2 separate regions of the Homo sapiens genome follow, and region 2 is linked to region 1. Evidence: fine-mapped expression QTL. A gene starts in region 1. The other region holds a variant in brackets. All regions are shown on one strand. Distances are from middle to middle. Region 1 holds the start of CYP4B1 (cytochrome P450 family 4 subfamily B member 1). Region 2 has its middle 60 kb from the start of CYP4B1.

Evidence for each region. PIP is the estimated chance that this variant, and not a neighbour inherited with it, causes the effect.
Region 2: its variant is the best candidate, but not a certain one, in a credible set for the expression of CYP4B1 in esophagus mucosa (GTEx, PIP 0.66).

What each region holds. Positions count from the first base shown.
Region 1 is chr1:46,796,402-46,800,796 of GRCh38, forward strand. CYP4B1 (cytochrome P450 family 4 subfamily B member 1) reads left to right here and starts at 2,645. Exons shown (of 12, transcript NM_001099772.2): 1 at 2,645-2,860. The coding sequence starts at 2,681.
Region 2 is chr1:46,856,448-46,860,842 of GRCh38, forward strand. It overlaps the pseudogene CYP4Z2P. Among named protein-coding and RNA genes, the nearest start is that of CYP4B1, 60 kb to the left of the region's middle. The variant T/C (reference allele first, on the strand shown) is at 1,990.

The DNA of each region.
Region 1 (4,395 bases):
ATTCTCTCATGGTAGTTTGTATTTCTGTGGGATTGGTGGTGATACCCCCCTTCATTTTTTATTGCGTCTATTTGATTCTTCTCTCTTTTCTTCATTAGTCTTGCTAGCGGTCTATCAATTTTGTTGATCCTTTCAAAAAACCAGCTCCTCGATTCATTGATTTTTTTGAAGGGTTTTCTGTGTCTCTGTCTCCTTCAGTTCTGCTCTGATCTTAGTTATTTCTTGCCTTCTGCTAGCTTTTGAATGTGTTTGATCTTGCTTCTCTAGTTCTTTTAATTGTGATATTAGGGTGTCAATTTTAGATATTTCCTCCTTTCTCTTGTGGGCATTTAGTGCTATAAATTTCCTCCACACATTGCTTTAAATGCATCCCAGAGTCAAGACCCATCAGTGTGCTATATTCAGGAGACCCATCTCATGTGCAGAGACACACATAGGCTCAAAATAAAGGGATGGGGGAAGATCTACCAAGCAAATGGAAAACAAAAAAAGGCAGGGGTTGCAATCCTAGTCTCTGATAAAACAGACTTTAAACCAACAAAGATCAGAAGAGACAAAGAAGGCCATTACATAATGGTAAAGGGATCAATTCATTAAGAAGAGCTAAGTATCCTAAATATATATGCACCCAATACAGGAGCACCCACATTCATAAAACAAGTCCTTAGAGACCTACAAAGAGACTTAGACTTCCACACAATAATAATGGGAGACTTTAACACCCCACTGTCAACATTAGACAGATCAACAAGACAGAAAGTTAAACAAGGATATCCAGGAATTGAACTCAGCTCTGCACCAAGCGGACCTAATAGACATCTACAGAACTCTTCACCCCAAATCAACAGAATATACATTCTTCTCAGCACCACATCGCACTTATGCCAAAATTGACCACATAGTTGGAAGTAAAGCACTCCTCAGCAAATGTAAAAGAACAGAAATTATAACAAACTGTCTCTCAGACCACAGTGCAATCAAACTAGAACTCAGGATTAATGAACTCACTCAAAACCGCTCAACTACATGGAAACTGAACAACCTGCTCCTGAATGACTACTGGGTACATAATGAAATGAAGGCAGAAATAAAGATGTTGTTTGAAACCAATAAGAACAAAGATACAACATGACTTGCTTTTTAAATGGTGCACTCAATGTCTCGATCCTATAAAATGAAGCACAAATGTGAAATTTCAGGAAGTGTGACAGACCAATGGAGAAGACACTTTTGGAGTTCTTTCATTGTACTCTCTTCTTGCTTTCTCTGCCTATGGGTAAGATTGGACATTATGTCTCCCCAGCAGAGGAGGAGGCTTGGTCTCTTGTGCCAGAGGGGATAAGGCAGCCATGTTGATGGCTTATCATTCTCTGAATTAGAACCTGTGATCTGAGTTCTGAGATTTGAGATCCAAGTCCACCTGATTGCTGGTTTTTTTCCTGCCACCTCCCTGCCAGACTGTCCTTGCTCTTATCTTGCTGGGAGGCTGACTTCTGCAGACTGACTCCCCAGGCTCCTTGCCATTTCACTTCTGATTGGCTTGGCTGATTGGAGACACTAGTAGGAGATGGGAGATGGCAGATGAAAGAGTTTAGGACATTTTTGCTCTGTTCTTCCACTGTTCCAGCATCACTTCTCTCGCACTAGCTGTGTTCCCCATAAATACAACCCCCACCAAGCTACAGGATCATGATTTTCTTCCCTTCTTCCTTTAGTCCTGGGGTATTGATGCATTTCTTGTTGTTTCAAGTCTCTGCATGCCACATCATATCTTGTTTGATTTCTTTAATCTGCCTGCCTCTGCAAATAACATACCCTCCCCAGGCAAGGCAGTGGTCTGAGCCAAACTTGTTCTTCCACAGAAGCCTGGGCTGTGGCACTGGGAGCTGCCAATTTCTTGCTGTGCAACTTTGGATATTTCCCTACCTCTCTTGAGCTTAAGTGGCTCCATCCAGCCAGGAGGGATTGAATTTGATGACCTCTCATCACCCTGAAAGTTCTATGTTCCTAAGTGTCAAAATGGCACTATTGTTTTAGGGGTGGAGTTGGCCCCTTTCTGACCTGGTATTTCCCTTTTGGGGCTAGAACCTTGTCTCTGAAGGTGCCTCACAAAAAAGAACTCAAAGCATTGCGAGCCTAGCATAAATGCCAGCTCTCTTAAGGGTTCACATTGAAGGGGACACTGGAAGCTTTCTTGAGAGAAAGCATAGGCAAGCTGAGCCTCAGCTTCATTATCTGGGAAATGGGTATAAAATGTGAGTGCCTCTGACCTCCTTGCTGTTTGGGTTAAATGAGATAGTATGTAAAAAGTGCCTGAAACATTCACAGTGCTTGTATGAGAAGACAGTGGTTATTATGCTGATGATTACACCAAGAATTGCCATCTGTTTGTTCTAAGGAATCAAGGTGGGATACCCATTGCCTGTTTTTTTTGGAGTCCACTATTAGGTTTCTCTTTAGCTGAATTTTGGGAGAAGGCCACTAGGCTCTCTCCTCTGTTGTTTGCAGTTTTGGAGGTTGCTGTCTCCGCCTTATGGCACTCAGCCCAGCCTTGGCTGCTGCTGGCTGCAGGGAGTGGCTAGGGCTGGACGCTGACAAGATGCATGGGTCCAGAGTATAAAGGAACCCAGGAGCAGCTGAAGGCAGGTCAGATGAAGGCTAGGTGGCTGGAACTGCAACCATGGTGCCCAGCTTCCTCTCCCTGAGCTTCTCCTCCTTGGGCCTGTGGGCTTCTGGGCTGATCTTGGTCTTAGGCTTTCTCAAGCTCATCCACCTGCTGCTGCGGAGGCAGACGTTGGCTAAGGCTATGGACAAATTCCCAGGGCCTCCCACCCACTGGCTTTTTGGACATGCCCTCGAGGTATGTGGAGGTCGGGAGGGTGGGGGAGAAAGAAAACATCCTCCCTCCTTTCAGAGAATCAGGCCTAATTCCCAGGGGGCTGTGGAGGGAGACTTCAAACTTGGGCAGGGGGATGATGTCCTGGGATCCATGGCTTCCATTCAGCTTTCCCACCGGAATTTCTCCTTCACTCCAGCCTTTCAAGCTGACTTCAGAAGTGGGGGCAACTTCCAAGTCAGGGCTCAAGCATGGCACAGACACCTTCTCCTCATTCTGAGGCCCAAAGTTTGGACCAGGTTCTGCTAAAAGCTCAGCAATGACAGAAAGGCAATGGCAGAAATCCAAAACCTCTGGATAGTACATAGAAGTAGGCAATCCATTGAAAGCTCAATCAGCGTCCGTGTTGTTGTGTGTAGTGTAAAGATTTCCATTTGTAAGGCAGGAAATGAGAGTGAGCATGAAGATGAGTACCGCCACATGACAGACCTCACCGAGTGTCTAAGCGGTTGGTGTCCCCAAAGGCAGGGCTCTCCCGGCCATGCCTATGGGTGGCTCAGGAGCCGTGACACCTTCCCAGGTTCAGATCATGGTTCGTCTTCCTGTTACTCCAGGGTGGGAACCACCTTAGCCCCTGCTCTCAGGAAGATCTCTTAGTTTCCTACTGTATTGGGGATCTAGACCAGAGGTTTCTAATTAGACACAGGGCAGGGAATTGGAATCAACTGGGAGGAGCAAATTCCTGGACCTCCAGTTCCTGGAGATTCCAATTTGTCAGATTGGAACTAGGAGTTTACATTTATAAACCTGTCCAAGTGTTAGTGTTTTGATCTGCAGCCAGCTTGGGGAATCCAGGTAGAGATGCCAGAGACTTTTCTTTCTTTCCCTCTCTTTTTCCTTTCCTTTCCCTTTCCCTTTCTTTCTTTCTTTTTTTCTTCTTTCTTTCTCTTTCTTTCTTTCTCTTTCTTTCTTTCTTTCTCTTTCTCTCTTTCTTTCTTTCTTTCCTTCCTTCCTTCCTTCCTTCCTTCCTTCCTTCCTTCCTTCCTTCCTTCCTTCCTTCCTTCTTTCCTTCCTTCTCTTTCTCTCTCTCTCTTTCTTTCTTTCTTTTTTTGATGGGGAGTTTTGCTCTCTCTCCCAGGCTGGGGTGCAGTGGCGCAATTTTGGCTCACTGCAACCTCTGCCTCCCAGATTCAAGCAATTCTCGTGCCTCAGCCTCCCAAGTAGCTGGGACCACAGGCACGCGCCACCATGCCTAGCTAATTTTTGCATTTTTGTAGAGATGGGGTTTCACTATGTTGGGCAGGCTGGTCTCAAACTCCTGACCTCAAGTGATCCACCTGCCTCGGCCTCCCAAAGTGCTGGGATTATAGGTGTGAGCCACCGCGCCTGGCTGACATGCCAGAGATTGAGGCTCAGAGTGAGGCAAGTTCCTTCTCCTACCTTCTGAACTCACTTTCCTCATTCTCAGTCTGGATGGGGGCACTGCTTCTCTTCCTTGATTGACACTAGAAATGAGCTTGACCTCTAGGCTTATTCTTGCCCTGACAGATAACCCTGTA
Region 2 (4,395 bases), 60 kb after region 1:
TATTTCTTTTAGGTGATTAATATACACTTTTCCTGAAGTAGCTCAGCCTTACTGAGCTTATTAAGACCACAATTTCTAAACCTTTTCTATGGGATTAAAAAGTAGAGCCACCCTCTACTCTCTGCAAGTCTTTCTGCAGCCACCCCCTCATTGCCTTTTAAAACTGGGAATTTCTCTTCTTGTTTAATTTGGCAGCCCAATCCTACCTTCTTTTTTAATTTCATAAATTCATTAAAATCTCTCTCTCTCTTTTTGTTTGTTAAATACTTTCCTTCCATTCTTTTCACTTTTATGGGATTATTTCTTTTTGCATTTCAGTGTATGTGTATAAGTAGGATCTTAGGAGGGACAAGTGGCAACAGAATCACCCAAGTGGCTTTCTTGAGTTGGAACTTAGAATTTACCTAGACTTATGATTTATCTTTTATAAGTAGATTGGTTTGTAGATAGCTAAGTATGGAAATATAAAAACTAGGGGACTCTGGCAGATGAAGATTGACAAAGGCAATAGCTGAGACCATGGAAGCAAGGTTGTTGAGAAGGAAATAGCTGATATTCTAGGACTTGGATACTGTCTGGGTAAGGAAGATGGTGGAGGTGTGAGGATGACTTCTATCTTTCTCACTTAAAATTACTCACAGACAGTGGTGCCATTCATTAATGTAGCAATCCAGGAGGAGGAATAGGTTTAGGGGAAGGAGGTAGATGACATGCTTTCTTTTGGACATTTTGCACATCATAGTACGCTCAGAACAAAGCAAAGTGCCTAGAGCAGATGTTTACTAGGCAATTGTTGGGCCAACAAATGAAGAGAAGGGCACACATAATGTAGTAGGTCTTTTGCCAAGAGTGAATGGGGCCATGGCACAGGCACAGGTAGAGAGTGATGAAAATGTGTAAGTGATATTGTGAGGTGTGGGAGAGAAAGCAGGCATCATAAACATGTTTCTTTTTAGAAATAAACAGGATTTTTGGGTAATACAGGGGAAGAGGTGGGTCTGGCGGATATGAGGCATCCATTTGCACATGCTTTGTTGTGCTATAGCTGTATTCAAGGGCCCATTAGCAGGGCAGAGAAAGCGTATAGAGGAATTTAATGCTGGTTGAATTACTGATGAGTGACAGTAGAGAAAGGGAAAATATTCAAGGAAGTTGATGGCATTGCCAAAGGGGAAGTTGGAGTGATGAATCCAGGCATCCAAGCCTGGGGTGAAGAAAGTGAAGTTGTGGAGTGCCTGTGTGTATGAGAGGGGCAGGAAGGAAAGCAGGGTAACAGGAAATGAGACAGATGAGCACGTGAGGTCCAGTGAAGGCCTGAAAGCTCTGTGTGTGGCAAGAAGGTGTGGCGGAAAGGAATGTAAAGTGAGGTGAAGGCAACTCTGCGTGTGCACTTCCTGTCCCTTCATTGTAGCTTGAGGGAGATTAAGGTGCAGCCCTTGAAGGCACTTGGAGGAAAGGGCAGAGACTGCAGGAGACCAGAGATGACGTATAAGTCGCCTAAAACTGAGTCAGCCGGGTGGAGCCAGCTCTTCCACCAACATCCATGCAGATCTCAACAGAATTGTCTGAAGCCCAGAAAGTTACCCGCAGCAGCCGCAAAAGCCACAAGATCAGGAAAGTGAAAGGAACATGAAACAGAAAGGACCTGAATGGGAAAAATTAGAAGGCATGCTGATTCTCACATTTTCAACATGTAGCTTTTGTATGGGTCGGGGGATTTTAAGACTCTGGATTACAGGGCTTAGGTGATCTAGAATGGAAGCAGAGAAAATAATTTTCTTGTGTTGGAAGGCAGCAATAAATCATCATTTTATTGATATTGAAAAAAACCAGAGATTATTGACAGGATTTAAGTATTATTGAAATGCAAGGTTAAGGGAAAAGGTAGTAAAAGTTGACTCTGAGCTGTCTTGTTTGAACAACTAGGTGCGTGGAACATTATGTGCATAGATGCAATATTATGTAGGTAATAAATATTACAATAAATAC[T/C]ATGTGAAAAATAACACTGAATTAAAAAGAGGAAACTTCTTTAGATACTAGATGATTGCAAAGATCCCCATGATAGCAAAGATCTTTCTCTGGAGAGATCCCAGAGAAAGCTTAAGTTGTTGCTGTAGTGTAGTAGTTAAGAGCACACTCTAGAGTCCCATTTCTTGGGTTCAAGTCCTAGTTCTACCATTTACCAGAGATGAAGTTTTACCTTTTTGTCCCTGTTTGCTAAAATGTGCATAACACTAGTATTTCCACAGCAGAACTGGGGGGCAGGAGGATGGGTGGATAAAATGAGTTAACACATGCAAAACATATGGAACAATTCTCAGCTCCTAGTAAGTGCTAAATAATTTTTTCCTTTTGTTGTTACAATAGTAAAGTTGATTTTGTAGGAAACAAATATTTAATTGCTATTGGGCAACTATGGTAGCACAGTAGCAATTAAATATTGCTACATTTAATTAGACTACTACAAATGCCCAATCAAATCCAGTATTTGAAAGATGGTTAAATTGGAGGAAGGTGTAGAAACACACCTCAACATAGGTCAAAGATAAATTCTGGCTCATTCCTTTATATCTCTAATGTCATCTTTCAATCCATCTTGCATCCCACCAATGTATTAATCTTTCTAAAAAATAACTATAATCGTGCTACCCAGCTTAGATGTCTTAAATCTGCTGCTTGATTGAGAAAGGCTGAACACAAAGGTTGGCCTTCAGAAAACTATGATCTGGCTACATCATGGCTCCAGGTATAGTCCCACAACTTCCCTCTGTGAATCCTGGAGTCTGGTGGATTACAGCAATTGCTCCAGTGACATGCCCTGCTGGTGTGCCTGAGGGAAGGGAGAAGGCAGGCTGCCTGCTGCTTTGTGTCTGCTCTTCTCTCTGCCAACAATGCGCCTCTCTCATCTTTGCTGATATAAATCTAGTCCTTTAAGGTTCAGCATTAAAGCCATGATGCTTCATGAAGGCCTCCTCACCCACTCCTCAGTCCATATGGCAGGATTCTGTACCTTTGCACCTGCATAATCCTGTGCCTGTTTAGATAGTCCTGAGAGCTCTCTCCTCTTTCTCCCTCTCTGGGAAATAAGAATGGCCCTAGGTTCCACAGAGTCTAAGGATAAATAACTGTTAAAGACATGAGTGTGTTAAGACATTTCAATCCAAACATAGCTGCATTGTTAAAAAAAAAAAAAGTTGTTTTAAGACCTGCAGGTAAGGAGCGTCCATCTGGAAAGGTAATGGGTTTGTCGAGTAACCGGGATATGTTTACTACCGGTGCGTAGAGGCGGAGGCATTCCTTGATGCACATTGTGGCGTAAGGCATCTGGCTCAGGTGTTCCCTGGGTACAAGCACAGGAGGAAAGGAAAAGGAGGAGTAGTCACTTTGGCATTGCACTGAAAGCCCAGCTTTTCCCCATTTTTGTAACTGAGAATGATTTTGTTCTTTACCCAAAGGAGGACTTCAGATGTATCAAGTATGTCTTAGGAAAAGCTAAATTTTAACATGAACCACTTTTCACATGTAACTGTAAGCTTTTTTTTCGCCGAAGATATAGGGCTCTTATCCTGAGACATACCTATTCCAGGGCTCCTGTGACCAATATCACACATCTGTGAAAATTTGGATAGACATGTGGGCTGTATTTATATCTAGAGTGCTTCTTTTATGAAAATATAAGTATTTCTGATAGTACTGTAGTAGGAATACAGACTACCTTCTTCACTAAGAGAGTTGAAAAAACTCAGGGAACTTTAAAAAATATTCTTAAAAGCATCAATGAGATAACTCATTTGTTAGGAGACCATAAAGAGGATTGGAGGATTGGAGATCACAGAAGTGGGCAGATAATGGCTGATGCTTCTGTTGCGAACCAGAAGTGGAGCAGTGGGCAAGGAGACATGAGTCAGAATCAAGGGCTCAACACATGTGGGGACTGTGGGAAGCCACCTTCAGCTCTGGGCTGGGCCTGCAAAGGAATGCACCTGGAAACAGGTATAGGAAAGGCAAAATAAATGCAAAGAAGTAGAGGAAAAAATAGTTTAGGGAAGAGTAGGAATCAATGAGATAGGCAAAAGCAAAAAGTCAACAAGGTCAGCAATGCTAGATATTGGTTCATTGAAAAGATGAATAAAATTGGTCATTTTTGGGTGAGAATGTTAGAGAAAAAAGACACAACTATCCAAATTGAACAAAAAGGTAACAAGTTTTGTTTCTAGTGATGGTGGACTAAGTAATTCAGTTCATATCTCCTGCTATGACAACCAGAAAATTTGGACCACACACACACAAAAACACACATAGTGTACTTGAACACATCAGAAAGCTAGTAATATAATATAGAGATGTTGGTTCAGGAGAGAATGAAGATTGAAGATTCATGGATTTGATCCTGAG